Regions from separate parts of the Homo sapiens genome. Here regions 2, 3, 4, 5, 6 and 7 are each linked to region 1. Evidence: fine-mapped expression QTL. A gene starts in region 1. Each other region holds a variant in brackets. All regions are shown on one strand. Distances are from middle to middle.

Evidence for each region.
Region 2: its variant is fine-mapped to the expression of FMN1 in whole blood (TOPMed, PIP above 0.99). The same link has a PIP of 0.9 or more in blood mononuclear cells.
Region 3: its variant is fine-mapped to the expression of FMN1 in monocytes (Quach 2016, PIP 0.95).
Region 4: its variant is fine-mapped to the expression of FMN1 in atrial appendage (GTEx, PIP above 0.99).
Region 5: its variant is fine-mapped to the expression of FMN1 in whole blood (INTERVAL, PIP above 0.99).
Region 6: its variant is fine-mapped to the expression of FMN1 in whole blood (TOPMed, PIP above 0.99).
Region 7: its variant is fine-mapped to the expression of FMN1 in thyroid (GTEx, PIP above 0.99).

Annotation. Positions count from the first base shown.
Region 1 is chr15:33,192,235-33,196,303 of GRCh38, reverse strand. FMN1 (formin 1) reads left to right here and starts at 1,590. Exons shown (of 21, transcript NM_001277313.2): 1 at 1,590-1,726; 2 at 2,244-2,395. LOC105370759 (a long non-coding RNA gene) reads right to left here and starts at 1,393. Exons shown (of 3, transcript XR_932090.3): 1 at 729-1,393. RefSeq lists silencers at 1,288-1,497, 1,272-1,611.
Region 2 is chr15:33,103,042-33,107,110 of GRCh38, reverse strand. All of the region lies in intron 4 of FMN1 (formin 1), which reads left to right. Among named protein-coding and RNA genes, the nearest start is that of FMN1, 90 kb to the left of the region's middle. The variant A/G (reference allele first, on the strand shown) is at 2,542.
Region 3 is chr15:33,135,026-33,139,094 of GRCh38, reverse strand. The region is part of intron 4 of FMN1 (formin 1); the gene reads left to right. Among named protein-coding and RNA genes, the nearest start is that of FMN1, 58 kb to the left of the region's middle. The variant C/T (reference allele first, on the strand shown) is at 2,499.
Region 4 is chr15:33,109,755-33,113,823 of GRCh38, reverse strand. The region is part of intron 4 of FMN1 (formin 1); the gene reads left to right. Among named protein-coding and RNA genes, the nearest start is that of FMN1, 83 kb to the left of the region's middle. The variant C/T (reference allele first, on the strand shown) is at 2,434.
Region 5 is chr15:33,081,615-33,085,683 of GRCh38, reverse strand. The region is part of intron 5 of FMN1 (formin 1); the gene reads left to right. Among named protein-coding and RNA genes, the nearest start is that of FMN1, 110 kb to the left of the region's middle. The variant G/A (reference allele first, on the strand shown) is at 1,759.
Region 6 is chr15:33,126,578-33,130,646 of GRCh38, reverse strand. All of the region lies in intron 4 of FMN1 (formin 1), which reads left to right. Among named protein-coding and RNA genes, the nearest start is that of FMN1, 66 kb to the left of the region's middle. The variant C/A (reference allele first, on the strand shown) is at 1,926.
Region 7 is chr15:33,067,749-33,071,817 of GRCh38, reverse strand. The region is part of intron 5 of FMN1 (formin 1); the gene reads left to right. It overlaps LOC124903459 (a long non-coding RNA gene), which reads right to left. Exons shown (of 2, transcript XR_007064574.1): 1 at 2,100-4,069; 2 at 1-928. Among named protein-coding and RNA genes, the nearest start is that of FMN1, 120 kb to the left of the region's middle. RefSeq lists an enhancer at 3,928-4,069. The variant C/T (reference allele first, on the strand shown) is at 1,719.

The DNA.
Region 1 (4,069 bases):
GAAGATATGAGGATTGAAGGAGATAATGTATATGAAGTGCCTATGGAGCCGGGCACAGCACTTCACAACTGTAATCTCGGCATTTTGGGAGGCTGAGAAGGGAAGATCGCTTGAGCTTAGGAGTTTGAGACCAGCTTGGGCAATATGGTGAAACCCTGTCCCTACAAATAAAAAATTAAAAAATTAGCTGGACATGGTGGTGCCCGCCTGTAGTCCCAGGTACTTTGGAGGCTGAGTTGGGAGGATGGCTTTAGCCCACGGGGTTGAGGCTGCAGTGAGCCAAGATCGCACCACTGCACCCCAGCCTGGGTGACAGAGTGAGACCGTGTGTTAAAAAAACAAATAAATAAAGGGCCTATCAGTGTTTGGCTAATATTGTGATTAAGAATAAATCAGAGTTCCAATAAACTATTATTTCTAGAAAAAAAATAGTGAAAAAAATCACCTTAAAAATACCTTCCAAATTTTTTTCCCATTTACTTATTTGAAAACAGAATCTATTCAGGACAAAATTCTATCTTCAAGTACCAAATGGGTGATACAGTTCGCATTTATCCAAAAGCAGATTAAAGACAATGCCTTTTCTTGCCTACCTACTTGGAAAAGATCTCAGTGTCACTCAAATCACATTCCAAATCTCAACGACATTAAGGCCTCAAATCCTCTTAGGAAAGGTTTGAAGGTAGTTCATTTCAGTAATGATTAGACACTTGGGGACAAAACAGTACCTTGGCATCAAGGTCTGTACTGATTCACCAGCACAGAAATAGCAGTAACAAGATCTTCAACTCTGAGGTGTTCAAATAAGCAGACAAACTCCCTCGTGAGGCCCAGGCCTCTTGACATCCGGACTCAGTCTTTCTTTCTCAGATCGCCAAGGGTCTGGCCCATTTCTCAGCCTAAACCTATTTTGCGTTTAATTCAAACCAGTCAAAGTAACTTAACCGCCAGCAGTTAAAAAGCTACTAGGAGGAAGCGTAGGCAGGAGATGGGAGAGGAAAAGGCTCCTGTCAGGGTTTGGGCTTATGTGTGGATTCTTGAATTCTCCTTCTTTGTTCCTTTTAGCACTTACGATCAAGAACGGCTAGGCTGAGGGGGCAGGGGGGCCAGGCCACTGGAGCGAAACGGCCTCTCCGGATCTGGAGGCGTGGGAACCTCGGGAATAGTGGGGAGTTCCAGACCAGTTCCCTTCCCCCATCTGAACAAGTCCAGAGCGTGCGCCTTGAGAGGCGCTCGGAAACAGGGAAGCTGGGGACACGTAGCGAGAGACTGGTTGTCGCCCTGGCTGTCCGTCTTAGACCTAGCTTAGCGACCACCGCCTTCAATCCCTCAGCCCGGATCAGACGGTGCCAAAAGACAGCACTGCTTCCCAGCCTGGCCCAACGGCTCGGCTGCTGATTGGGCACCGCCGCCTCCCGCCCCGCCTCCCCTGCCACCTCGGGCGCCGCTGCACGTTTCCACTGGTCTTCAGCCCTGCCGATCAGTTTACTGCTCACCTCCCCCAAACAGCTCGTCAGGCCGGCGCGTGCTAGGAAGGCGGGGCCTGTGGCCTGTGGGGCGGAGCCTCGGTGGAGGTCGGCGCAGCTGCCCCTTTGGGCTTTGGCTCTGGACTGGAGCGCAGCATCCTTCGAGGCTGCAGCCGCCACGGCTGTTGCCGTAAGCAATCCTCCTGCCTCAGCCTCCCGAGTAGCTGGGACTCGGGACCAGCCTCCCGAGTATTGGTCAGGTAAAGAGAGTCTTGTCTGTTCTGCTGGCCATCTGCCCGTCTCTTCTTCCCGACCAAAGGCTGCCTGCTCCGCCTTCCCCCGTGGCTTTCAGGGTTCTTGGAATGAGGCATCAAGTCTATTTACCCCGCCAGCTTATCTTCCTCCCCTTCTGTGTCGGTTCCTCCAGCTCCCCCACCAAGCTGCTCCCAAGTACGTTGGTGGGCCCTCCGGGTCATCCCAACGCTCCTCACTACAGAACTCCTGTCGTTGACTCTCAGGTCCCAGCCCCCTTGACCCGCCAGTGCAGTCTCATTCCCAGCTTGGCACAGGAAAGGTGGAGGGCGGGAGGGCGGGAGGGCGGGGGACGGAGAGATGCAGAGCTTTTTTTTTTTTTTTTTTTTTTTTTTGAAGCTGGATGTGTTTAGCGCAGAGGGGGAGCACCACAATGGGATTGCATTGGGAACAGAAGCAGCTTCATGACTATGGTTGGCAATGACTAGAAAGGTATCTGTTGCTGCTTTTTGCTTGTGTTTATAGATGACATTTACCATCACCGTTTTCTTCTTCTTTCATCATCATCATCATCACCATTGCCACTACCACCACCTCCAAGGCCACTACCACCACAGCATCTCTGTTCCTCCATCAGAGCTCTTCAAGTTCTGTAAAGGCAGATTCTCTAAAGGCATGTAAGTGCTGACGGATCCCCCAACCCCCTCCCCCACCACCAAATAACGAACAGTGCTCTTGCCCCCTGAGGCCAGAGCCAAGCCCTCATTTAACTCAAGAACAAGTAGCTGGGAGCAGAGTGTGAGCTGGGAGGATTTTCCTTATCCTCATTTGCAATTGAGATTGCCAAAGAAAACCCTTTATTTTAATCATCCACATTTCTGCTTGCTGTCTCCTGGAGAGTTCCATGTTAGCACTCACACACTCCGAATGGGCTGAATGCAGAGCCTGAACCTGTGATATATATGGGGAGTGGCAGTCACTGAGAGGTGAATGTCCAGACCCAATCCTTTAAGAAGACCAGGTGGAGTAGCAGACAACCTGACTTTCTGCTACAGTAGCTCCAGCTGTACTAAAGCATGTTTACTATTCATGTTTGCATATGGGACATGTGCCATCATCTGCTATGCCCCCTTGCGTGTGTATTGGCAGGGGGGCGGAGGGGCGCATCTAAATTCCTAGGAGAGAGAATTATATTCTGTTCTCTACACCAGGTAGCATCTTATAGGCACACCAATGGGATTCAACAGCCGTTGCTTAGCTGTTTCTAGGGCTTACTGCAAATCTCTTGGATCACAGACTTATTAACCCTTTTTTGGGAGGGAAAACAGTATAGCTGAGAATTGCATACCAGATTAACTGTCGTTGTGGAAGATGTTGCTTCCACAATGAATCAATGAGGTCTCGGGTCTTCTTGATCAGATATCTAAACACTAGTCTCCTTTCTCTCAACTGTGTTACAGTCCAGGAGCAGGACCAATGAATAGTTAGACATATTGCAGGAACAAAGAAGCAATGGCCTCAATGGAGGGAAACAATGGAGAAGAGTAGTGAGACAGTATATTGTAATGGCTAAACTCATAAACCTGTCAGACATAGGTTCAAATCCTGGACCAGCCACTGACTAGCTCAGTGATTTTTGCAAGTTGCTTGCCTCTTTAATTTTAATTTCTCGTCTGTAAAATAGGGATAATACTACCTGTCTCTTAGGAGAAGGTGTGAGGATTAAACGAGATAATATAGGTAAAATACTCAGTAGTTTCTGGCACATAAGTGGGGAATTTATAGTAACTGCTATTAATAATACTAGTCAAGAAGGATAATAAAGGCCAGTCTCGTTCCTAAAAATTATGCATTTTTTTCCATTGTCTTTATCCTTTTTAGGTGTCAGAGCTGATGCAAATGGGGTATGGTAGTCTTCAGGTTCCTTATAGCACTACATCTTAGAGGGGTGCCACTATTGAAGCCACCTGTGTTTGGACAGGCATTTCTCTCACCAGCCTTCACAAGTACTTAGCCGATTCTTAGTTGAGATACGTTAAAGATGCAGCTTTAGAGAAGATTTCCAGGCCTCTGGCCCTATTCTAGACTGCTTCTTTCTCACTGAGTGTTCAATGCATTGACTGTGATTGATGAAGCCTTTGTCACAGGCTTAACCCTGCCTAGACCAAATGCTTTGGCCAAGGGAATGGGGTCCCATAGGACCTATGATTGTCTAAGGGTAGGTCTCATATCCTGGTCATCCTCCCTTTCCAGACATAAAATTGGTGGAGCTGTTCCCAGAGGAAGAGGAATGGGGACAGACTGGAACTTGATGTGATGATGGTAAATATCCTTGATAGAAAATTGAGAAA
Region 2 (4,069 bases), 89 kb after region 1:
AAACTGAGAGCTATTTAATTAGGTGGGAAAGACTGGGGGAAGAACAAAGTTAGAAGGAAAATAAAGAGTTTGGAATGAGTATTAGCCAAGCAATGAGTAGAGTACTTGGGTGCCTGTATGAGATAGGGCGAGAGCTTATGGCCAGATACATTAATTTGGAAGTCACTAGAGCTGAGATGATATTTAAAACTGAGACTGAATGAGATGACAGATGGAGTGAATGAAGACAGAGAAGATTCTGCACATATCTTTGGGGTGCTGAAACATTTAGAGCAGTGCTTCTCAACTAGGGGCGATTTCAGAGATTTTAGTTGGCCAAGGGATTGGGGAGGGGATGCTACTATTAACTAGTGAGTAGAGGTCAAGGGATGCTGCTGAACATCCTATTGTACAGTGCAAAGGTCATCCTCCCACAGAAAACAGTTATCTGGCCCAAAATTTCAATGGTGCTGAGATTTAGAACACTGATTTAGAAGGATGAGGAGCCAGCAAGGCAACTGAAGAGTGAACAGTGAACTCAGGAGAACTTGGATGGAAAGAGTGTTTTCTGAAAAGGAACTTCAAGAAAAAGTATGCATTCAACCCTGCTGGATGCTCCTGAGAAGTTCCATGAGATGATGAAAATTTGGGGATATATCAGAATGACTCAAAATTCCTCTAAAAGCTAATAGATTTAAATGATGTTTATACACTTTTGTAGAATCATGTACACATTGAAGAAAGCTGACTTTAAAAAAAAGGCCACAGAGACAATGCCAAATGAAATTTTGGCATTCTCGTTGCTTAGCGTTTTGTGTCTGTGTGTGTGTGCGTGCGTGTGTGTGTGTGTGTGTGTGGATTCTGGTTAGCTGTAATCAAAATAGGAATTTATTTACAGAACATTATGGTATGTTAAGAAGCAAGGAAAAATTGAATAGTAATATTGGGCCAGGTGGCAACCAGGAAGTACTGAGAATCCCATAAGCAAAAGTTCCTGGATATTTTCTGCCATTTATAAGATTCAGATCCAGCGACTCCAGATCAGGTTGAGACATGGCTGCTCAGAGCCTCCCCTTATGTACTGGGAGCAGTTCCGAGAGAAGGCAGAACAATCATGGGATGGACAGCCATTCTAAGGGGTACTTTCCAGCTTTCACCCCTTCATGCTACACATCAAAGAGCAGCAGACTCAGCTCTACCAGGCATAACTGCAAACCCTTTCTCACTAATAGGAGACAGTACAAGCTCAGACAGTAATGAGATCTGGAGTGATGCCATAGGCACCCTGTTCTTTGAGTCGTTGCTGAGAAGTTTTTTTTTTCTTGTCCTATTACAACATTTTATAACCTTATGAATCAATGGATACTTTTATTGTAAATAATATATCCCAGTAGTGAGACCAAAAAAAAGTGAAGAAAAGGAAAAGTAGATATTTATTGAAAGAGAAAACAGGAAGTAATTAATCTTTAGATATCCAAACAGTACATAAGAAAATACAGTTTTAGTCAAGATTCCCTATTTTTCCGCCTGATCTCAAAGCCATATAGTCTGTAAACCTTTCCCCAGTCATTACCCATTTCAAGTCAGCCTTGCCTTTAGGCAGCATTTCAGCTGGTCTGGATTCTTTGGTGAAGACAACCGTTTATTTCTGAGAAGTCTGAACCATTGACAGTCCATCTAGATAATATTATGGGAGTCTTCTGCTAAATTATCCTCTAGATTCCTCTGATACCCCACCAAATCCCCTACAATCCTATTTTTAATAGGGTAAATTATGCTAGCTATTAATTGCAACCCCTACCCTTTTATTGTCCGTTTTATTTTTTTCTTGACAGGAGGATCTCAAAGTGGCCCAAGGAAAGTCTTTGTTTCTAATTCTGAGGGATGACCCCTGCTCCCCAGTTCTGACCAGTGGGGACATAGCTCCATTTAGTAATGAAACATCCAGAGCACAGAGAGCACCTGTCTTAGAATCATTACAGCCAGGGGAAAAAAATGTTTAATATTAACCCTTTGGTTGCTCATTCCCTCTTTGAAGACAGTGAGAGAGATTGTGTCAGACCAGAGCATGTACTATGTAGTGAGATAGCTCCCCAGCTTGCAAAGTGCCACATCCCAGGGCATCTCCACCACCTCTCAGAGCTCTTGGAGAGGGAGAGGGTCATTCTATCTTTTGCTTATTGCTTATCACAGAAATCACCACCAATTAGATTCAGCTTTTTGCTCTTTCTTTGGATGGTGCAAATATTAAGACTGAAATTAGCATTGTTTTTAACATAGAAATGATATATTTTAATTTCTGCAAAGCAAGTAGTGTCAAATCCCTTTAGTAAAGTAATACCTTTACAAATTTATATCAAATTATCTCATTTTTCCTTTACTCTTTTTTCTTTTTCAGTTAATTCACACAATCCTTGGCTCCATGGAAAATCACAAAACTATTTGAGAATTACATTAGGTGGAAAACATTGCTTCAGGAATACATACGTATTACTAGCTTCCCTAGTAATTTTATTTTCATTTCCTTTAGCTGATTGAGTTCTCAGTGACTGGCGCTATCTT[A/G]GGTTCATCTCATGTTTCAGTTGTGCTGAGTGAGTCCTCTGTTGTATCATTTTCCCCAACCACATACCAGGGTGGTTGTGGCTTTCAAACTTCCTGCATCTCTATCAGTAATACATATAATTGTCATTTCAAATAAAAAGAAAATAAATTATTTGGTGCTTCTATTCCTTAGCAACAAGTCACTGTTGTGACTCATTTTAAATTGTAAATCGTGAAAATTTGGCAAGAAAGTCCACTTACATATTTATAAGTAAAATTTAAGCCCAAAGTAAAAACATGACTCCTGAAATACTTGTCAGCACCATACAGTTCAGTCTAATGCTCTTTGTTGTTTTGAAGCCATTATTGACAAATTTGTGCATCTTATCATTTCTTACCAATGTGAGTCTCAAAAGTTTCTATTTTATCATTTGGTGAAGTCGTTTTAGGGAATGTTTATCATGCACTTGACTGTATTGATAAAAGTTTTTTTCAGCTGACAAATATATGATGAACTCAATTTTATTCTTAGTACAGATTTTGTTAACTTTAAGGATCAGTTCCTTCCTGAAAATTTTGCCGATGAAGTTAATTTTCTTTTAGTAAATTGATTTTTCTTCTGACTTGCATTTTAAATTGGAGCTGTATTTTCTGGTAGGATTATGCCCCCAAGGCATGGTAAAATAACATTTGAAATTACCTCAGGGGGAAGAAAAGGGCAATTTTCAGATAGTGATAAGATGCTAAAAACAGGTTCCTAAATTAAAGATGATTTGGGTTAATTTTAAGCTTGACCAAATAAATTCAAGGTGTAATAGAATAGAAACCATGATAACTTTGCTGAACAAAACATTCTGAAAAGACCCTGGCACCTTAAATACTCTTCTACATAACAAAATGAAGCTCATTTTGGTGGATTAGGGTTTTTGTTTTTCTCCTTTGGTATATTTTAGTTTGAAGGGAGGATGAGAAACAACATTTCAAATATTTCACAATGGATAAAATTAGAGAACACATTTGTTGAACCATTCATTGGAACTCGAAAGTGAATCCTTTGGAGAAATGGAGCTCTGTCTCATTCTACCTTTTTGCCCTCTACAGGGTCTAATTCAGCACTGAGCAGAGAGTAATAATTCTAACAGCCAGTGTTTATGTACTATAGGTGCCAGGCACTGCTCTGAGTCCATTGTATAATATTAACTCTTTAATCTTTATAGTAACTCCAGAAGGTGAGAACCATTATTTCCCCCTTTCACAGAGGAGACTGGGACATAGAGAGGTTAAACAAATTGCCAAGGTCTCTTGGCTAGTAAGAGGTTGGAGCTGAGATTTAAACCAAAACTGTTCTGCTACAGAGTCTATGCTAAGCTCAATAGTAAGTGTTCATTAGGACTGATAAAAAAGAGTAGATCTTATCACCTGAAAAACCTGGATGTTCTGAACATAAAACTGTTCATGTAATGTATATTCAACAATTATTGTATTCAACAGATATTATTATATATCTACTAAACACAGGCACTGTGTCAGATGCTGGAGTGCCTGGTAC
Region 3 (4,069 bases), 57 kb after region 1:
TAAGTTATGATAGTCTGTTACGTGTCATAATCTTACATAATTATTAAAATATCATTAGTAATATCCCCAGACTGGAAAATTGTGGGCTTGGTATGGCCAGTGTGCCTCTCATCCTCTCCTAGTCCTCCATTCACCAGAAGAGATTAGACGAACCTACTCATCATTACTTCATGAAGAACTTCTCCAGGGTCTTGAAATACAAGGAGATTTTGAGGTTAGGTCAGAGATAGTGAAGGGCCAGAGCAGACTTTGGAAGGATGCTGCTCCTAGCCTCTGCCCTGAACCCTTTGTTTTCCTCTCCCACTACTATGGCCACCATCTCTTCATGCTGGGAGGGACATAGCATGATGATGTGAACCGATATCTGAGCCAGATTGGAGCCCTAAATCATAGCTCTCATACTTAGAAGAACCCTGTGTTTTAGAATAATCAGAGCTTTGTTTCAAAGCTGTGTACCTGGTTTAATGAAGACAGCAATAGTATCCTCACTTCCAGGAGGAGTCAGGTTATCTAGTAACCCATGAAAATACAAAGTTTGCTAGGATAATTCAAGCCTCTGTATGCCCACATTGAGAGGTTAGACAAGAGGAAGGTGGCAGTATCTCGCTGGGAACGTTGAGGGACGTGCCAGACTGTCCTTGGGGAGAGATGTCAGAGGAGGAGATGATGGGAATATAGGGACACCTGCATAGGCCACATTGCATTAGCAAAAGGGAAGAAAAATGAAACTGAATGAAGCTAGTGAGGATAAGGAGCAACAGCTGCAGAGCCCAGGAGCCAAGAGTCGGTGATACATTTCACCTACTCATCTTTAGGTTACTCGATAGAAATCTGATTCCCTCAAGTACAGGCAGTCAATGATAGTGTTCCTGCTGACAGAGCATTTCCTGGAGGCCTTTTCCAATGTTTATTTTATCTGCTCATGTGCCTTCATCACTTTCGTTGTCCTGTGTCATAGCAGGCAGTTGTGCTTATGGATACTGGTTAACAAATAGCAGTAACAGCAACAGCAGTCCTTTATTCTTGTGTACCAGATACTGACTTGGACAGTTGACAAATATTGTATTGAAGCCAAACCATAATCTACACAATAGTTATTATTATCTCCATCTTACAGAGGAAGCAATGGAAAGTCAGAGAAGTGAAGTACGTGGCCCATGTCACCCAGCTAATAAGAGGCAGAACCCAGAGTCACACCAGGTCTGGCCGACTGCAGCTGCAGTCCCTCATCTCTTCATGACTGTGCCTTGTAACAGGGGATGAGTTGAAAACCTGGAACACAGCAGAAGGGCAATTTGTTGGGCAAGCTGTATGGTGGTGGGTTCTTTAAGAAACCGCAGTACCTGATGCTCCCCTCTTAGCTCTGATGTCTGTAATCATGTAGAGAAGCCATACCCCAGTGTAAAGAAATGTGCAAGCATTTTACATAGTATGTTGAAAGGAAATACATTGTCCGGTGGTGGTAGGAAAAGTAATTTCTTGTATGGAATCTGAATAAAAATCAGAATCCTCTCCTGGGAAGAAATGTGGACACTTCTTTGGTGATATCATTAAACATTATCCTCTGAGCTCATTAATCTGGGGCTCTACTGATCAGTCATGTCTTACTCTTTGGGATTAGTTTGGAATCATACAGATTTCCTTTTTCCTCTTAGAAATATATATAGCTACCCTTCTCATTCAAGGTAGGCAGAGGGAACTCTGGAATGCTTCTAAAACTCCTACCCTGGCCTCTTAAGTAGAAGAGGCAAATGTAGAAGAGGTGCTTTGCTACTGAGTGCAGGCAACAGTGAAGGTCCCATGGCAACAGGGAATGGGGAAAGGCAAGGGTGGCATGGGCTGAAAGCCAGCTGTGAATAAGAACCACCAATTTCAGTGACATCTGTGGGTACACACTTCATTGCTTACCCAGAACTTTTACATACATTGTTATCAGATTCTCTTAAAAATCCCTGTTTGGGGAGGGTATGTTTTTCTGTCTTTTTTTTTTTTTTTTTTTTTTTTTTTGAGACGGGGTCTTGCTCTGTCGCCCAGGCTGGAGTGCAGTGTTGTGATTTTGGCTCACTGCAACCTCTGCCTCCCGGGTTCAAGCGATTCTTCTGCTTCAGCCTCCCAGGTAGCTGGGACTACAGGCTCCCGCCACCACGCCTGGCTAACTTTTGTATTTTTAGTAGAGACAGGGTTTCACCATGTTGGCCAGGCTGGTTTCGAACTCCTGATCTCAGGTGATCTGCCTGCGTTGGCCTCCCAAAGTGCTGGGATTACAGGCGTGAGCCACCATGCCTGGCATGTTTCTGTCTACTTTAAAAAATTATTTATTTGGTTATGTTCTACCTCATTCCAGAAATCATTTAAGGGACTTGCATTCAATATAGCAGATAAAAATACCTTTAAAACAGGTGATAGAAATTAAAGAGAAAACATTGTTTTTAGGGTTATATTGACCAGCACAAATTTATCTTGACTGATGACACATTTCAGAGCCAAACCCTGTAGAG[C/T]CATTACCACGATCCTTGCTTCTGTTTTTAGGAGGAAATAACTAAAACATGGTTCATCAAAAAAAACCACTTGCTTAGACATTTTCACCCTGAAATCTGTTATAAAATTAGGAAGTGGGAGTTTAAGAACTATTCCATAGTCCTATTTGAAGCTCTTCCCAAACACGTCTGTCTCTGTGTTTATGGTTATACGTCTTTCTTGTCTACGTGGGTAGACTGTATATATGCATAAAAATGTGTGTTTTTCATATTCTCCCATGAAATTTAAACCTCTCCAAGACATATACTTTTGTGCAATTTTTAACAGTCCTGTCCCTGAAGCAGATAATGACATCTCTCTTTGAGTGAGGATGGAGCTAAGACTCAGAGAGGGTACCTTGCTAAGTAAACAGCAGAGGGACAACATTGATGTTAAATCCTGTGTCCTCCCTTTGTACCACATTGTGATGTCATGGGGATAATTTCAGTGGCCATGAAGCCATCTGCTCTGAACTTAAGTAGTGAACACAGCTCCATCATTCTGATTATTTATATTTATATCTACAAAAGCATTCAAAACATTTTTTATTCAACAAATATTTATTGAATCCCTATCATATATTCATCATTGTTCTAAGTATAGTAGACAGAGCAGTAGGCAAAACAGAAAAAAGCAAAGCTAATTCCTGTCCTCATGGAGCTCACACTCATTCTAGAAGGGTGAAGACCAAAACATAATCAGCCAATTGTATACTCTATGTACAGCAGGGCATGTGGGTGATGGGAAAAGACATTCCATGGTTTTTTTGGTTCATAGAATAGAACAGTTAGTATTGGTACGCAATGCACGATAAGAATTCTATCCAGTGTTAAGTAGTATATTTTAAGAACATTGCATAACCTTGGGGAAGTAACCTAACTGATTCCACTAGCATTCCAACAGAGAGAGTCCCATCTTACACAGTCCTTGCCAGCCAAGCTCTCGGTTTCTCCAGCTTCACTAACCTCTGGCACGAGGCCTCCTTGTTCCTGAGGGAACTGCTTTTCTCATATTTCAGAAGGACAGTGCATACTTGTGTCAAGCTGAAAGGGATCTTTCCTACTTGATGCCAGCGAGAAGCAGTGCCAGGGAAGACAGACTGACAGAGCAGACATTCTCCTCCCTAACTGGGTTATTCTGTGCTGTGCTGTGCAGTGGCTTATCTTATTTTGAGATCTTCCTGCTGTTGTCCAGTTTGTACCAACATTGCAAAATCAATATTCTCTTTATTTCTAAGGGCACATTTTTACAAAACAGGACTTCAGAAAAAGGGTGAGATGATAAAGACTCTCAAAAGGTTACACTGGCCTTTTGAAAAAATAATTTATGTAGAGAACCTTCTAGCGCAAGATCCTCAAATAGTTGTATATTTAACATCTAAAGTGCAAGTCAAACATTTTGTGTGAATTTTGACACTTAAAAAACATTCCTTGGGAGACCAAAAAAAGCGGGGCTTTGGAAGATAATATGAAGGGAGAAACTCAAAAAGCAAAATATTTCCCATGTATAGGCTACCTTTATTTTAGCTGTGAAACATTGTAACTCAAAATGT
Region 4 (4,069 bases), 82 kb after region 1:
CTCAGGGGCCTCAGCTGTAAGACCGTCTGGAAGGAGTCACAGATGAAAGAACTGACGTGGCCATGGAAGCTGGCTCTGAGGTGGAGCACCAGGAATCCAATGCACAGTGTTCAACGTGGGGCCCCTGTCTAGAAGGGGGAGAAGTAACAGAAGGTGGGTGGTGGTACTATTTAAATTGGGGTATGAGGTGGGCTGTAGAGGAAGGTGCCTCCGTATACTGACACTGGATGATTTTTGTGTTTTCTGTAGGAGCGCAGGTATTGACTAAAGATGGGGGAGCAGGGTCGTACTTCATGGAGGAGCAAACTGTTGTTGGAAAAAAGAGGCTGCATAATTGTCTATATCGTACCCTATGTTCACATCTATGTTACATAAACAGTATAAGACAACAACAAAAATTTTGTAAAGAAAGAAAGGCTGGAATGAAATCACTGAACTATTAATTGAAAAAAATAAGCTTATATAGTTTAAAACAATAGATAATTCAAATTTTGTAGTGGACCTACGTTACAAATACATGGCAACACTCATCCTGTTTAATTACTTCACTGAAGTTGTTTGAATTCATGTCAAGGAGCCCACTGACCTTTAGGTAAGAATATGTCAGAAAGTGAGCAACCCCCTAACAAATGATCACACAGTACACAGGTCAAGCTTTGGCCACAAAGCATCCAAATTACACCAATAAATGCAGATATTTGAAACAGCATATTGAGAGGTAGATATGCCTTGGGGGTGTTAAACACTTTGGTTGTACTTTAGATATAAGTATTTTGTTCTTTTGTTCCGCCACACTGAGGCATTGTGAAGAAAATAGAGAAGACACTGTTGTCAAAGCACCTAACAGCGAAGGTTCTCTTAGACTTTCCCTGCCTTCCCCTTTGTCCCAGTACACCAGGACTGCCTAGGGCAGCTGTAACCTGGAGGCTTAACCTTTCTGACGATATAAACCCAGTAGCTGTGTAGGCCTTGACATTTGGATAACTCTGCTGCAAATGCCCTTCATTTCTTGCCATTTACCCACACCACTTCCTAGCAACCCACATTTCCCATGTGATCTCTAGCAGAACAGGGAAAATATCCTAAAATTCTGTTGATTGGGCAGCCGTGACTGTTATCACGTACTCAACAAGTAGTGGTGAAAAAATACACCAGATGTACAAGTAGAATATAGGCCAGTCAGTTGATGAGCTGGAATTTTTGTAACCACCTTCTTGCCTCTAATATCTTTGGAGTGTTTTTATGATAGGGGTTAAACTAAGCACTAGTGCCTGAAATTCTTTGCTGCAGGTACCGAATGCTCTTAGGTTCGGCATCTCTAGGGAACCTTTTAATTTCATTGCATAGTTGTGCTTAGTACTTGTTTAATGGAGCAATAACAGTTCCTCTTTTCTTAATTAAAAGAATTATGTAAGAAAACTAGTACAGAACAACAAAATCTTCTATAATCCAACCACCTCAACTCTTCATAGAGATAGGTGTTTTTAAATAACAAAGGTCATGGAAACAAAATTATATAAAAATATTTTGTTTTATGCACTGCCACCTAACATTATTTCAAACTTCTAATGTTTATATACCATCTCTTTAATTATACCTTTATAATTTTAAGGGGTAACATTTTATCATGTAGATGACTATGGTACTAAATCCATTATTAGACATTTAAATTGTTTCCAAGTTGAAACCAATAAAAATGCTGTGGTTAAAATCTTTATTTATATAGCTTTTTGTTTTCATAGACATGAAATTGTAAAAAGATACAAAAACTTTGTTAACACTACAGTTCTTTCCAAAAAATTACAGTAAAATGTGATACAACCAATTCATATAAAATGGTAACTTGAGTCTTTTTAAAAACAGCTTTATTAAGATATAATACACATGCCATATAATTCACTCATTTAAAATGTACAATTCAGTGGTTTCTAATATATTCAGTTGTACAACCATCATCAAAATCAACTTTATAACATTTTCATCACCTCCCCCAAAACCCCCATACCATCAGAAGTCACTCACCATTTTCCCACAACCCCGTCCAGCCCAAGTTATCACTGAGCTTCTTTCTGCCTCCGTAGATTTGCCTGTTCTGGAAATTTCATGTAAGTGGTATCATGCAATATTGTGGTCTTTGTGACTGGCCACATCTACTTAGCATGTTTTTGAGATTTTTTTATAGGCAAAAGATACTCCTTCATATGGATATAGCACATTTTGTTTATCCATTCATAAGTAGACAAACATTTGAGTTATTTCCACCTTTTGGCTATTATGCGTAATGCTACGAACATTTGTGTACAAGTTTTTGTGTGGACATGTGCTTTTATATTTCTTGGATTTATTTCTAGGAGTGAAATTGCTGAGTTGTATTCTAATTCTTGATTTAACCTTTTGAGGAAATGCCAAGACTGTTTTCTGGAGCTGCTGTAC[C/T]ATTTTAGGCTCCCACCAGCAATCTTGTGAGAGTCCCAACTTCTTCACAGCCTCATGAACACTTGTTGTTATCTGCCTTTTTAATTATAGCCATCCCAGTGAAGTGGTATCCTACTGAGGTTTCGATTTGCATTTCAAAGGATCCTTTAAGTTTTTTTATTTTTTAAATTAACTTGTGTAGGGTTGAAAGCATTTTACAATGTACATTTTAAAAATCAGTGTGATTTATAGAGGGCATGTGCAAAGCACCATGGAAAACACACAAATGAATCATCTCATAGATTGTGAGGGAAATGGAAATATGCCATGAGAAATGAATGTAAGGTCAGGAATAGCATACCATAAAAATGTAAAACTAACATTTGAATGGCAGTTTATAATTCCATAGCACTTTTTCACATGTGTTAACTCATTTACTCGGAATAATTATCATAATTGCTGTACAAAGGCATCTTGAAAAATGTAAAGGAGTTGTTTTTAGAACTTCTTTAAGGTTAGTAAAAATATACTGCATGCCAAGACATTAAAAATTGTTTTAATGTGGGAAAATTTTAATGGACTAAAAATACTGACAAGTTGTTCTTATTTTTGTTTTAATAACAGAGAAAATGGCTAAAGGAATAGCAAAATAGTTTTAATTGGGATTTAATATTGCATTTTTAAATAAAAGACTGTTAGTCATCAAAATGCTTTAATGATCTGTGTTTATATAAATTTAATCTGAATATAATCAAATATTAAAAAGAAAAAGAAGCGTCAATGTGAGGGGCGGGGGGACGTGTTTTACTGATATTATTTGAGATGCATGACAGAATAGCTATTCTCAAAAAATGCTCTCCTTGGTTAATACAGAATTTTACCTTTTTGTTACAAAACTATTATATGGCCATTATAGAAAAATATAGAAGATTCATAAGGATACGAAAAAAACCTTCCATTATCACCACCCATAGAAAAATTACTGCTAAAATTTACATTTATTTCCAGTCTTTTTACTGTACTTTAAAAAATTTCCTGAACTTGATACATAACCTTTTGGTTCCACATGTTATAAGCATTTCCTGTGTTTTTTAACTTTTCATAAATATTGTTTCAGTTATTGTGAACAATTCTGCAAAGAGAATAGACCATCTATGTATTATTTACCTAATTCTGGACACTTTACTTGCTTATGGTTTTTTAGTGTCCTAATAATCTGACAGGTATTTTTGCATAGAATGTTTGCATTTTAGAGAATTTGTTTATGGTAGATTCCTAGGAGAAGCGTTATATTGTCAAAAGTATGACAATTATCAGTTATTTTAATATTTATTACCAAATTGTTTCTCCAAATTTTATTCAATATACTTTTTGCCTGAAGAGTATTCGTGCACTTACCCATTTATGTATTCAATAAATATTTAATGGGAACTTGCTGTGTCCAGTTGCTAGGTGAAGTGCTGGTGCTAACTTAAACATCCATGGGCACTGTCTTACTTTTTTAGGTTTTTAAGGTTTTAGACTTCCTGATTTACAGTGAAATGTTCTTTGAGCTTGCATTTTTTTTTTTTAACTTTCATTTTAGATTTGGGGATACATGTAAAGATTTGTTACATAGGTAAACGTGTCATGGGGGGTTGTTGTACATATTATTTCA
Region 5 (4,069 bases), 110 kb after region 1:
AAGTATTTTTAGGTTTTTTGATATTTATCACTAGATGAAAAATGTCTATTTCCTGAACTAGCCTTTTATGGGCTTTATATATTTATATATTACATATATGATATATAAATTATGCATATGTATATATGTATAATTTTAATATATGTATAAATACATGTGATATATATATTTGTATATATAAATACTGTGTAATTAAACAGTATATATTAGTATGTTGCTTAGTTTTTCATTAATCAGAATTATAAAACTAAAATAGTTTTTTTAGATTATTTTCTGAATCAACAGTTTTTATAGTTTGGGCCCTGTGTTTCCTTCCTCACCTCAAGCCCTTCTCCCCTCTTTGGACAGTGTGATTTGACTCCTATATGTTTAAATATTGATATTCTAGGTAAGGTTTCTATCTGAAAGGATTCTACTTATTTAGAACAAATGTGTATCCTATAAAAGACTACAAATTGGGGCAGTGTATACTGCTTGGGTGATGGGTGCAAATCTCATAAATCACCACTAAAGAACTTAACTCATGTAACCAAACAGCACCTGTTTCCCAATAGCTTACAGAAATCAAAAAGTAAAAAAAGAAGAAAAAAATAGCCTGCTGTTAATGACTAGCAGCTCACAAAAACCCCTTTCCTCTGGTGGGCTTTGGACTCTAAGCAATATATTGATCAGCCTGAGACATTGGACCAGCACTGCCGTGCTTCCAGTTTTAAACCTGACTTGCAGCGTCACAATCAGGATGTTAACTTTCTTAAGCCTTTTTCTGTGGCTACACTGACTCTCATTAGTACGTGATGAAAGGTAAAACATCTCATACTTGAAATAATTGGTGGGAGTTGGCATCCGTGAGTCAGGATGGACACTGGTGTTAAGGCTACAGCTGTTACTAAGTCCCCTCATTTAGCTGGGCATTCATCTTTTAGTTACTAAACTATGAGAAGACTCAGGGGTTCCTTGGGGAATGGCAGGAGGTGGGGTTGGTGTAGGACAAGCACTAGGAAGACTCTGGGGGCATCTATTTAACAAACTAAATGAAAACAAACAAACAAACAAAACCTCCTTTACCTTCACAACACTTCTGACATTCTGAGACCCAAGTGTACGTGTTTTTCATAACAAGCAATTCCCCAATTGCCTGTAGACACCAACTAGATGTCCCACAATTCAATTGACACGATCTACTTGGAACTGTAGCCACATCCCACAAGTTAAGGATTCGGTCCCACAAAACTGCCACACCTCAGATGCCAGTCACAAGTAGTGGGTTCCCAGGTTACCCATAACTTCTGTCCAACTTGGATACAAATAGGTTCCTATGACCCCCTCTTCGGGTTCAGTAATTTGCTAGGATAACTTGTACAACCCAAGGAAACAATTTACTGACTATTACTGTTACCAGATAGGGGTCTTGATCCAGACCCCAAGAAAGGGTTCTTGGACCTTACACAAGAGAGAATTTGGGGCAAGTCCATAAAGTAAAAGCAGGTTTACTAAGAAAGTAAAGGAATAAAAGAATAGCTACTCCATAGGCAGAGCACAGTGGTGTGGGCTGCTTGACTGAATATACCTGTAGTTATTTCTTAATTGTATGCTAAATAAGGGGTGAATTATTCATGAGTTTTCCAGGAAAGGGGCAGGGATTTCCTGGAATTGAGGGTCCCTCCCCTTTTTAGACCATATAAGCAAACTTCCCAACATGACCATGGCATTTGCAAACTGTCATGGCACTGTTGGGAGTGTCTTTTAGCATGCTGATGC[G/A]TTATAATTAGCATGTAATGAGCCGTGAGGATGACCAGAGGTCACTTTTGTAGCCATCTTGGTTTTGGTGGGTTTTGGCTGGCTTCTTTATGACATCCTGTATCAGCAGGGTCTTTGTGACCTGTATCTTGTGGTAACCTTCTTTTTTATCCTGTGACTAAGAATGCCTAATCTACTAGGAATGCAGCCCAGCAGGTCTCAGCCTTATTTTACCCATCCCCTATTCAAGATGAAGTCGCTGTGGTTCAAACGTCTCTGACATTACCAATTTATTACAAAGGATATTTTTAAAGGATACAAATGAATAGCCAGATCAAGAGATACATAGGGTGAGGTCTGGAAGGGTCCAGAGCACAAGAGCGTCTGTCCCTGTGGAGACAGAACTTCTTTGGGTAGGGTTTTTATGCAGATTTCATTACATTGGTGATTAGCTCAACCTTTAGCCTCTCTACCCTCCTGGAGGTGAGTTGTTGGGACGCAAAATGCCAACCCTAATCACAAGGTTCCCTTGGCAACCAGCCTCCCATCCTCTAAAAGTCACCTCATTAACATAAGTTCAAGTGTAGTTGAAAGGGGCTTGTTCTGAATAACAAAAGATGCCCCTTTCACCAATATTGTTTCTGAGCTGTTTCAGAAGCTGAGGACAAAAAACAAATATTACAACTTCTATATATATTTGAATATATTTGAGTATATCCAAATATTATTACTACTTCTATGGCTCTTATCACTTAAGAAGTTACGAGGGTTTTAGAAGTTCTGTCCAGGACCCAGATGAAGACGAAATATACAGTGTATTTCTCATTATATCAGTATATCACACAACTGGTACTTTGGTGTAGATGCTAGACTGCTGTGTAGGGAAGCTCTGTTTGGGTAATTATCCTGCAAATCCTGGTCAAGCAAATTCTGTAGACTATTATGGGCAAACTACAAAGCTCTGGAAAGACTGAACCCAAAGCTCTGTCAGCTCCACTTTTGGGCCATGAAGTTTCCAAATATTGTATGGGACATGCCTATATTACAAAATTTTTTGGTTTTTTTTAATCTAAAATTCATATTTAACTGGGTATCCTATATTTTATTAACTAACTCTATCACTCCTAGATATTACTTTTGAAACAAGATCCAAATGTGTGAATTGCCCTTGGGTAGCATCTATCAGTCACCCCGGAGCGCCCATTTAGGACATGAATATTAAGAAGTTAGCCTGAAGAGTCAGTTTTTTATGTTCCACTGAACTAGGAGCTACCATTAGCCATGCATCTCAGGTCCTAGGGCACTTTCAACCAGATTTATCAAAGGCAACTGAATATAGTCAGAGACTAGAGAAGCACTGGGGCCTAAATTCTTATAACAAGTGCAGTTTCCTGAAGATACCATTGGAGAGGAATGCTCACCATGGAGAATAGTTTGTAATGTGTCTATAAACAAAGACATGGGTGGGTAGAAAAGACCCTAAAAAGAGGTATGGCCTGAAATTGAAAACAAAGATATGAAAAGCAGGAAACAGGTAAGTAGTCATTAGGATTATATCCTGGTGGCAGTACTCTCTGGAAATAAGATTTTGCATGCCAGCTTTTAAAACACTTTGGGAGGCCGAGGCAGGTGGATCACCTGAGGTCGGGAGTTGGAGACCAGCCTGACCAACATGATGAAACCCCGTCTCTACTGAAAACACAAAAATTAGCCGACCGTGGCGGTGGGCGCCTGTAATCCCAGATGCTCGGGAGGCTGAGGCAGAAGAATCGCTTGAACTGGGAGGCAGAGGTGACAGAGCGAGACTCTGTCTTACACACACACACACACACACACACACACACACACACACATTGTTTTCCAGCCTGGGTGACAAAGCGAGACTCCGTCTTACACACACACACACACACACACACACACACACACCCCTGAACTCTTCTTGTTGATTCTGGTTTCCAAGGCTCATCACAATCCCCTTCTCACCTGTGAGGCCCTGCATACTTTTTACTGAATTAGCTTAATTGTCTGGGGAAGACAAAGCATCCCGTTCCAAGTAATTGTATCTTATGAACCTGGATGTAATTACCAAGGCTCCTCCCAAGCTTGACTGTCTAAACGGTAATAAGAACCTCCATGTCTTACCGATCACTTCCTAAAGGCCAGACCCTGCCCTTAGAGGTGTTAGTATACATACTGTACAAATCAGCAAGGGCACGGGCAGGATTTAAACCCAGATCTGAGTCTAGACTCAAGTACTTAAATGTTAAGTCCTTCTACCGCTCCACTACTTCTGGACTTGTTTTCTTTTGTTTTTAGTTTAAGAACAAAAGAC
Region 6 (4,069 bases), 66 kb after region 1:
TGAAATTATCACTTAATGATTTGGGCTTTTGAAAATGCATATACCTATTAACAAAATTGCCTTATATCACAGCATTTTCTTGTCATCAAAATTGCTTAAAATTAATTTTAATGTTTGCACATACTCCAGTGGATGAAATCACCTTAATTTTTTAAACCTCCTTATCTCATTCTTAGGTTGCTGATCTTTGCTATAATAAACTACAGTGCAGCCCACAACTTGTCTCAATCTCTGTTGATATTTCTACATTGTTTCATAAAACTGATTCTTAACCTTAAGCATTTGAAAAATTGTCTATATATTTAGTTTTGAAGTGTGTATATTTATGTATATACATGTAGGGCAATATTTTGAGTTCTGTACAGTCTTCTGAACACAACGAATTTCTCCTCAATGACATAAATAGTTATAATAAATAATGAAAATAGAAAGAAAATGCTAGCAGGGCAATCTTAACTGGCATAAGAGGAAGGTTTTCTGAATTTGCAGGAACTTGGATCAAGAATGAAAAAATAGGCTGGGTGCTGTGGCTCATGCCTATAATCCCAGTACTTTGGAAGGCCAAGGCAGGTGGATCACGAGGTCAGGTGGATCACGAGGTGGATCACCAAGGCAGGTGGATCACGATGGATGAGACCATCCTGGCCAACATGGTGAAACCCCGTCTCTACTAAAGTACAAAAAAAATTGGCTGGGCATGTTGGCGTGTGCCTGTAGTCCCAGCTACTTGGGAGGCTGAGGTAGGGGAATGGCTTGAACCTGGGAGGTGGAGGTTGCAGTGAGCCGAGATTGTGCCACTGCACTCCAGCCTGGGCGACAGAACGAGACTCTGTCTCAAAAAAAAAAAAAAAAAAAAAAATTGCTAGTCAACTCTTTTCTGGTCAGAGGTGTGAGCCATGGAGGCAGTCTGGTTATCTTACAAAATGTCTCAGACTTGGAGTAAAGCCCTGGGTCCATATCTTGGCTCTGCCAGTGATCAGCTGTGTGACCTGAGCCACCCTCAGATTCAGTCTCCTCATCTGTAGGATTGGGGTGACACCCACGACAGTGGATGGTTGTGAGACTCATAAGGTCATGCTTATGGAGGTGTCTGGGATGGCATGCATGCCAGGAAGTGGGCATCAGCATATACCAGTTTAACCTGTCAGTTGAAAGGTATGTTAGAAATAGAAGTATTTCAACTTACCCATGTGCAGGTACTGAGAAAGCTCTCAAAGATACCCAGATTTCAACAGTGTTTTGGTAATCTTACCACGGTTATTTATACACATTGCTACACCAGCCTCAGATTTATTTCAGCTCAGTTAAGTTTAGTGATTTACCTCATTTGGAAAAGAAGTATGGCATACTATATTATTTATATTTAAAGCACATATTTATAATCTGAAATTTCTAGATTTCACTGAGTGGTTTCAATTCCTGTCCCCAAATTCTGGTAGCTAACTGCATTGTGGTATTACTTAATTGCTGTTTTCTCCGAGTTACATTGAGCTTTAAAATATTGAGAGGTGAAGCCAGCTGGGCTTCTGGGTTTTGTGGGGACTTGGAGAACTTTTCTGCCTAGCTAGAGGATTGTAAATGCACCAATCAGTGCTCTGTGTCTAGCTAGAGGATTGTAAATGCACCAATCAGCATTCTGTAAAAATGGACCAATCAGCACTCTGTAAAATGGACCAATCAGCACTCTGTAAAATGGACCAATCAGCACTCTGTAAAATGGACCAATAAGCAGGGCATGGGTGGGGCCAAATAAGGGAATAAAAGCTGGCCACGCACGCAGGCCTCTGCAGTCTGCTCCGGTTGTCTTCCGCATTGCGGAGGCTTTGTTATTTTGCTCGTGACAGTAAATCTTGCTGCTGCTCACCGTTTGGGTCCATACCACTTTTAAGGGCTTTAAAATTCACCACATCACCTTTAAGAGCTGT[C/A]ACACTTACCGTGAGGGTCCGCGGGTTTATTCGTGAAGTCAGTGAGACTACAAACTCACCGGAGCATCCGGACGCACCGTCTTTAAGAGCTGTAACACTTGCCGCAAAGGTCCGCGGGTATGTTTGTGAAGTTAGACCACGAACGCATCGGAAGCAAGAAACTCCGGACTCGGTATGTGTTTACTTAACATATCACGCTGTTTCATTCTCAGTGTAATGACTCTGAGAACTTGCATGAGGCTTTTTATAAATGGACCTTGCAATGTCATAGGAATAAAAATTCTTTTAGGAGGTAGAAAGAATGATTTTGTTGATGAACAAATGGCGGGCAGTTGGAGTTCGGAGAGAGGCTGGTGAATCCTTGAGATCGTCAAGGATCAGGCCCGGAATCAGACCCCGTTGATGGTCGGGCCTAGTCAGCAGCCATGTTCAAATTCCCAACTGTTGCGCTTCTAATTATTGCTCTCTGAGGGTGTTGGAAATTATGGTCTTTGGTTGCTCGTAAGTCTGCTTTTTGCTTTTTTTCCCGGGAGCAATTTGTTTGCTTGCTTTATTTCTCCATCCTACTTCTGTTACACTCTCTACTGCTCCCATCACCATGGTGTCTCCTCTCCCTTCTTCTGGCCTCATTCTTGGTTTTCTTCTCCCATCTTTTTTGTCCTTTCTGTCACCTGACCTGTGTCGTGTCTGGGCATTCTGCTATGATTTGTCTATTTTCCCCTTCCCCCGTTGCCCTTCTGTTACCTTCCTTTCCCCTTTCTTTCCTTTCTCCTGTCCTGTTGCTGCCTCTTCTTCTATTTCCATCTGTCTCCATTTGTTGTAGAATAAAGAGAGGCATAAGATTCCTCGGAAACAGCACTGTCTCACTTCTCTCTTACCAACAGAATTTTTCAGGGAGACTGAGGAATGAGATCTTGGATGTGTGGCAAGATGTAGTTCTCTACAGACACTGCAAGTGGATGTGGCATTGGTTTCCCCTATCATTACAATATAACCTGCCTGAAACCACAGGTTCAGCATAGCTTACGTCCAAAGAGGGTTTCACAGCCCCAAGTGGAAGCTTCAGTTGGAATGGTGCTGAGTTTGATTGGAAAATACTTGTGTTTTAACTTCTGTCTTGGTTGACTAGCTTTAGGATGCTTACAGACTGGTTTCTGTTTTAAAAGGTTCACTGTTTAAAAACTTTATTCAGGTTGAGTTTAATGGAAAGTTACACTTGGGTTTCATTTAGTAAGTAATAGTTACCTATTTTTAGTGTTTTATTTACAGTTAGATGTAGGTTCACTCATTAACTCAAGGAAATAGTTGTTCTGGTCCATCCTTTGAGACTGGTAAAGTGGGTGGTCTGTGTATGAACAGAGTCAAGTTATTTAGAGGGATTTAGGGTCCAGGTTGAATGTGGAGGAGCATTAACCATGACGTTACTTATTTGACGGATTCTTGTTGTGAAGAATAAGGAGGGAGATCTGTGGTTAGGTAGTGATGATCCGACCAGTTGATTTTTCTTGAGATTATATTTTTGAGGAGAAACAGATCTGGCCTGACCTCCTCTCTGTTTGAGAGAATGTAACATGGGAAGTCTGCTACTGCTTGTTAACAGGATGCTATCTCGTTCATCACTCCCCCAACCAGCTCCTGATACAGTGCCTGGAAAACAGCAGAAAGCTTAATATGTCTTTTTGCAACATGCATCTTGCAGTTTTCTCAAACTCCCACATGTAGTCATGACAGCATCTTGCAAGCCTCTCCACAGAGTCAGCCAACCACAGTTCTTTGTCAGGAGTCACCTTACGTTTAATCAAGATGAAACGTTTATCCCACTTTGCAGTTATACAGCCACAGTTATTTATGGGTATCAGTTTTCCTTCCCAAAGTTTCAGAGCCAGAAGACTCGCCAGGAAGGCGGATCGAAAAGAGTTCGGGTTTCATGGCCCTGCAAACTGGCTGTTCCAGTAATCTGTCTTCCCTCCTTTCCCGAGTTTCTGCTCCAGCCTGCCTGTAGCGTAGATTGCTCTTTTATTGCCTTCGCTTCCTGTCTGCTGAGTTGGTCCCATTCTGGGCATGCTGCCAGGATTTGCAACTTAACACTTCCGCCCATTTCCTGCTGCTTCCTTTCTTCTTTCTGGTCTATTGAAGAATGGGCA
Region 7 (4,069 bases), 120 kb after region 1:
GTTGCTTATTTGAATATTACAATCTGAAACACTCTCATTCCCTGAGTGACCAGCAGTGGTAACATTTTTTATGGTCATGAGAACCAGTGGCTTGAAAGAGTCCGTGTTAAAAGATCTCTTTGAATCTTACTCGTGCTCCTGTTACTCGTGTTCATATTTAAATGGTCACTGCTGGCTTTCATTCAAAATTGTTTCAGGTCTAGCTATTACTATTAGACTGAACCTGGGGGATAAAGTCCTTGGTTACAGTCTGTAAACAAGAGTCTCCTCTTTCTAAATAGAGATCTCCAACTAAACTACACATTTCATGGAGGTGGAAGGCAGGGCTATCTTCATTCTTATGTCCTCACAGCCTCATTCATTGTTGGTGCTCATTTATGACATTGGATGAAGAAGTCTTCTTAATAGAAGTCATGCTTCATAAATGAAGGAGAATGGTAGGGGCAAACTGGAAAACCTTGATGTGTTTGAGCCCAGAGGATTCCGTGTCTCTTCTGTGTTAGATAGATAGGCCAGCTAGGTTTACTGGAATTTTTGCTTGATTTTTCTTTCCTCTCTCTCCATTTTTTCCTAAGAAAACTTGTAGATTTTTCCCCAAGTTATGCAAAAGAAAAGAACAGTCATCCTCAGTATAAGGTTGTTGTTTTTTGTTTGTTTGTTTGTTTTTGGTGATGTTTGTCTTCTGTGTCATTTAAGAGGATAAAGTATACTTCACATCCCAGTTAAAGACCACCAATGAACTGGGCTGAAACCTTTGCACCTCGCTGTGTGTGGTCTTCTATTCGGGAAGGAAGTGGAGCCTCTGGGCTTTCGAAGAGTGGTTGAGAGTGTGGATGCTGGAGCCTGCCTGCATGGATTCACATTATACTTCCACCATCCACTGTTTCTGTGGACTGGCAAGACTTTTAATCTTCTGTGCCTCGGTTCTCTAGCAGGAAAAAGAGAATAATAATAATAACAACTCATAATATGGTTGTTATCTGTATTAAGTGAGTTAATATGTGTGGAGCACCTAAAATTGTGCTTGGCACATGGTCAACCCTCAAATCTTAGATGATGTTATTCCCCACTTACTAGCTGTGTTAAGTTTGGCAAGTTACCTTCTCTCAGCTATGGTTGCTTACCTTTAAAAATGGGCCTAATAATACCTTACTTACCTAGAGCCAAGGGGATGAAATCAGATAATCTCCTGGGACCAAAGACTTGACCCACTTCCCATGAAATTGTGTTGGCATCTATGAGTATTGAGGGGATACTGAAACCTTATAATTCTGCTCCATGCCATGGTGCAGAAGGGCCAGTAGCCCCTTCCAGCATCTGTTCCATTTTGCCCAAATCTATAGAGGGGCCTGGAAGCTTATTCCAGAAATCAATAATTAGTTATGTCTGAGAAATTGAGTCTTTTCAGTTCATAAAAAAAAAAAAAAAAAAGACCAAATACGTGCCCTCTCCCACTGCCCCCTGCCATATTAGAATTGGATGATCTGCATTGCTCGTAAGAAGACTGATCTTAGGCCGGGCGCGGTGGCTCATGCCTGTAATCCTAGCACTTTGGGAGGCCGAGGCGGGCGGATCACCTGAGGCCACGAGTTCGAGACCAGCCTGACCAACATGGAGAAACCTTGTCTCTACTAAAAATACAAAATTAGCCGGGTGTGCTAGCGCATTCCTGTAATTCCAGCTACTCAGGAGGCCGAGGCAGAAGAATCACTTGAACC[C/T]GGGAGGCGGGGGTTGTGGTGAGCGGAGATTGCACCATTCCACTCCAGCCTGGGCAAGAAGAGCGAAACTCGGTCTCAAAAAAAAAAAAAAAAAAAAAAAAAAAAAGAGAAAGACTGATCTTATGATCTGTTGTGATCATTTCTTCTTTCTACAATCTTGAAGAAGCAGATGTCTGATTTTAATCAATGGGTATTTCCTCTAGACAAGAATCTTGTTCTTAGACTTAAAAGACACCATTGAATTTTTCTGCAGTGTCCTGGTGGCTTTTTGATTAAGTGCCTCAGTTAATAATTCCCAAAAATACTATGATCAGGAGCAAACAGAGAAGTACCTGTTTAAAACACAAGATCAAATCAAGATTTAGAAAGTGTTTTACTTACCCTTAGTGGTTGATGGGATGCAATGATGCGTTTTTATTTGTGTGAGCGTTCCTTTTGAATACATTGCTAGAAATGTATTTTTGCAATCAGAATTTCTCAGTATTGATGCTTAGATTGTTTTTAGTACTGAAGAACATGGCTCAAGTTATCAATGTGTGACATGCAGCCACCCACTCCTGCAGATAAAGCAAGACTGTCATTTTCCTTATGGCTACCATTTCCATTTTGCAGAAGGAATTACTGTTTGTGTTTAACACTTGACCACAATCTTCTTGGACCTTTGCTCAAACAGAGATGGCAATTACTGTTCAGCCAGTTTGACTTGCCTCTCCAACCAGAACAGTGTCCTGTCCATCCCAGGCACTCACTGCATGCCTGCTTAGTGGGACTGGATTTGGAAAACACTTGAGGCCTTCAGGTAGATAGGGAGCTGTCCCAAGAGGCAGCTATGCAGCTAGGAAACAGGGCTGCAATTTTTACCCCCATCCTTTGTTGCCAGTTTCCCAGCATATAAATAGAGTGGTAGAAACTACACTGGGCTGATGTTTGGAGGTTGTTTTGTCTGTCCTGTTTTTGTTGAGGCAAATTGGGTCTGTGATAGAGATCTGACTGATAGAGACTTTTCAGATGTTTTGCCCTTTAGGAGAACGTGGATCCTTGGGGATCTTCAAATTGTTTTGTCTAATAGGGCAGGTTGTGTGTTACACTGTGTCATGCCAGGTTTCATTTAGTTGGCTGGGACACCAAAGGGGGAGAGGCGTGTCCTGCTGCTGCCAGGATTTCTAAGGCAGCCAGGAAGTCACAGCTGCTGAGCAGAAAGAAGCCTGCGGTTGGCACAGGGAGTGTAGAGGGTAATCATTCCTGCGGAGCCTGGGCTGTTTACTCTGCCACCCTGTTGCTGGTGGACACTGGGTGTGGTGGGTGTGCTTGCCTAATACCTGTTTGTAGAGCACTGAGACAGCTAGGGCAGAGCTAAAACAGCAGTCATCTGAAACCAGTCGTGTGGGTTATCCCTCACGGGCTTTAGGAGCTAAAATCTGCATTCCAGATGAAACCTGCAGGGAAGCGGAAGAAAGCACTTAAAAAAAGCTTCAAGGGCAGTAAATTAACTGCTTTGAGAGTTCTAGGCACTTTTGAGATGATCTATTGCTTTCTTTAATTTGTTTCCTTGATTGCGGCTTCGTAAGTGGCTGCTGATCTGGGTGTACTGCTAGTTTTTTGGCCTGGATGCCCCAGGCCTCTCTGATCATAATCCAGATGAAAAAGAAGGCCTGTGTCAGAAGTATTTCAGTTGTTTTCTGCTGATTTACTTCTGATTCCCTTAGGCTGCTCTGGGCAGTGGCTAAGTGCCCTCAGTATCAGCTTGCCGGCTCAGCACTTTCAGAAGCCTTCACTTGCTCACCAATGAGGAAGTTGAATGCCACCAGGAGAACCGCCGGCCTGGGGCGGAGCTCCTCGTGAAGTCCTGGGTTGGGATTACAGGGCAGGCTGACTTTCCCTATGACAAAAAGGCTTTTGTCCCCGGGAATAAATACGGAAGTTTCAGAAGAGCAGCCTCCCTGGTCCGTGTGTAGTAAGGTGCGCAGCCTCGGCTGCTTCTGGGCATAGACTCCACAGATTTTTCACAGTTGCCCTGGAACACATCATCGCACAAACCGGAAGGAGGGCACTGTGACCCGAAAGAGACCAAGTGTGTTTGCTGTGCGGCTGACAGCCTGACTCCCGGGTCCTGTTGCTCTCTGTCCTGTAAATTAAGAGCAGATGGAGTGGATAAACTGAGAGCGCAGGAGAAGGTAACACAAGTCAGAACTTCCACCAAGGGCATTACTGAGACATGGAGAACGTTGATAATTCTCTGGATGGCAGTGATGTGTCAGAACCAGCAAAACCAGAAGCCGGACTTGAAGTGGCTCAGTCGATCCTGAGTAAGTTCTCTATGAAATCCCTATTTGGGTTTACGAGTAAATTAG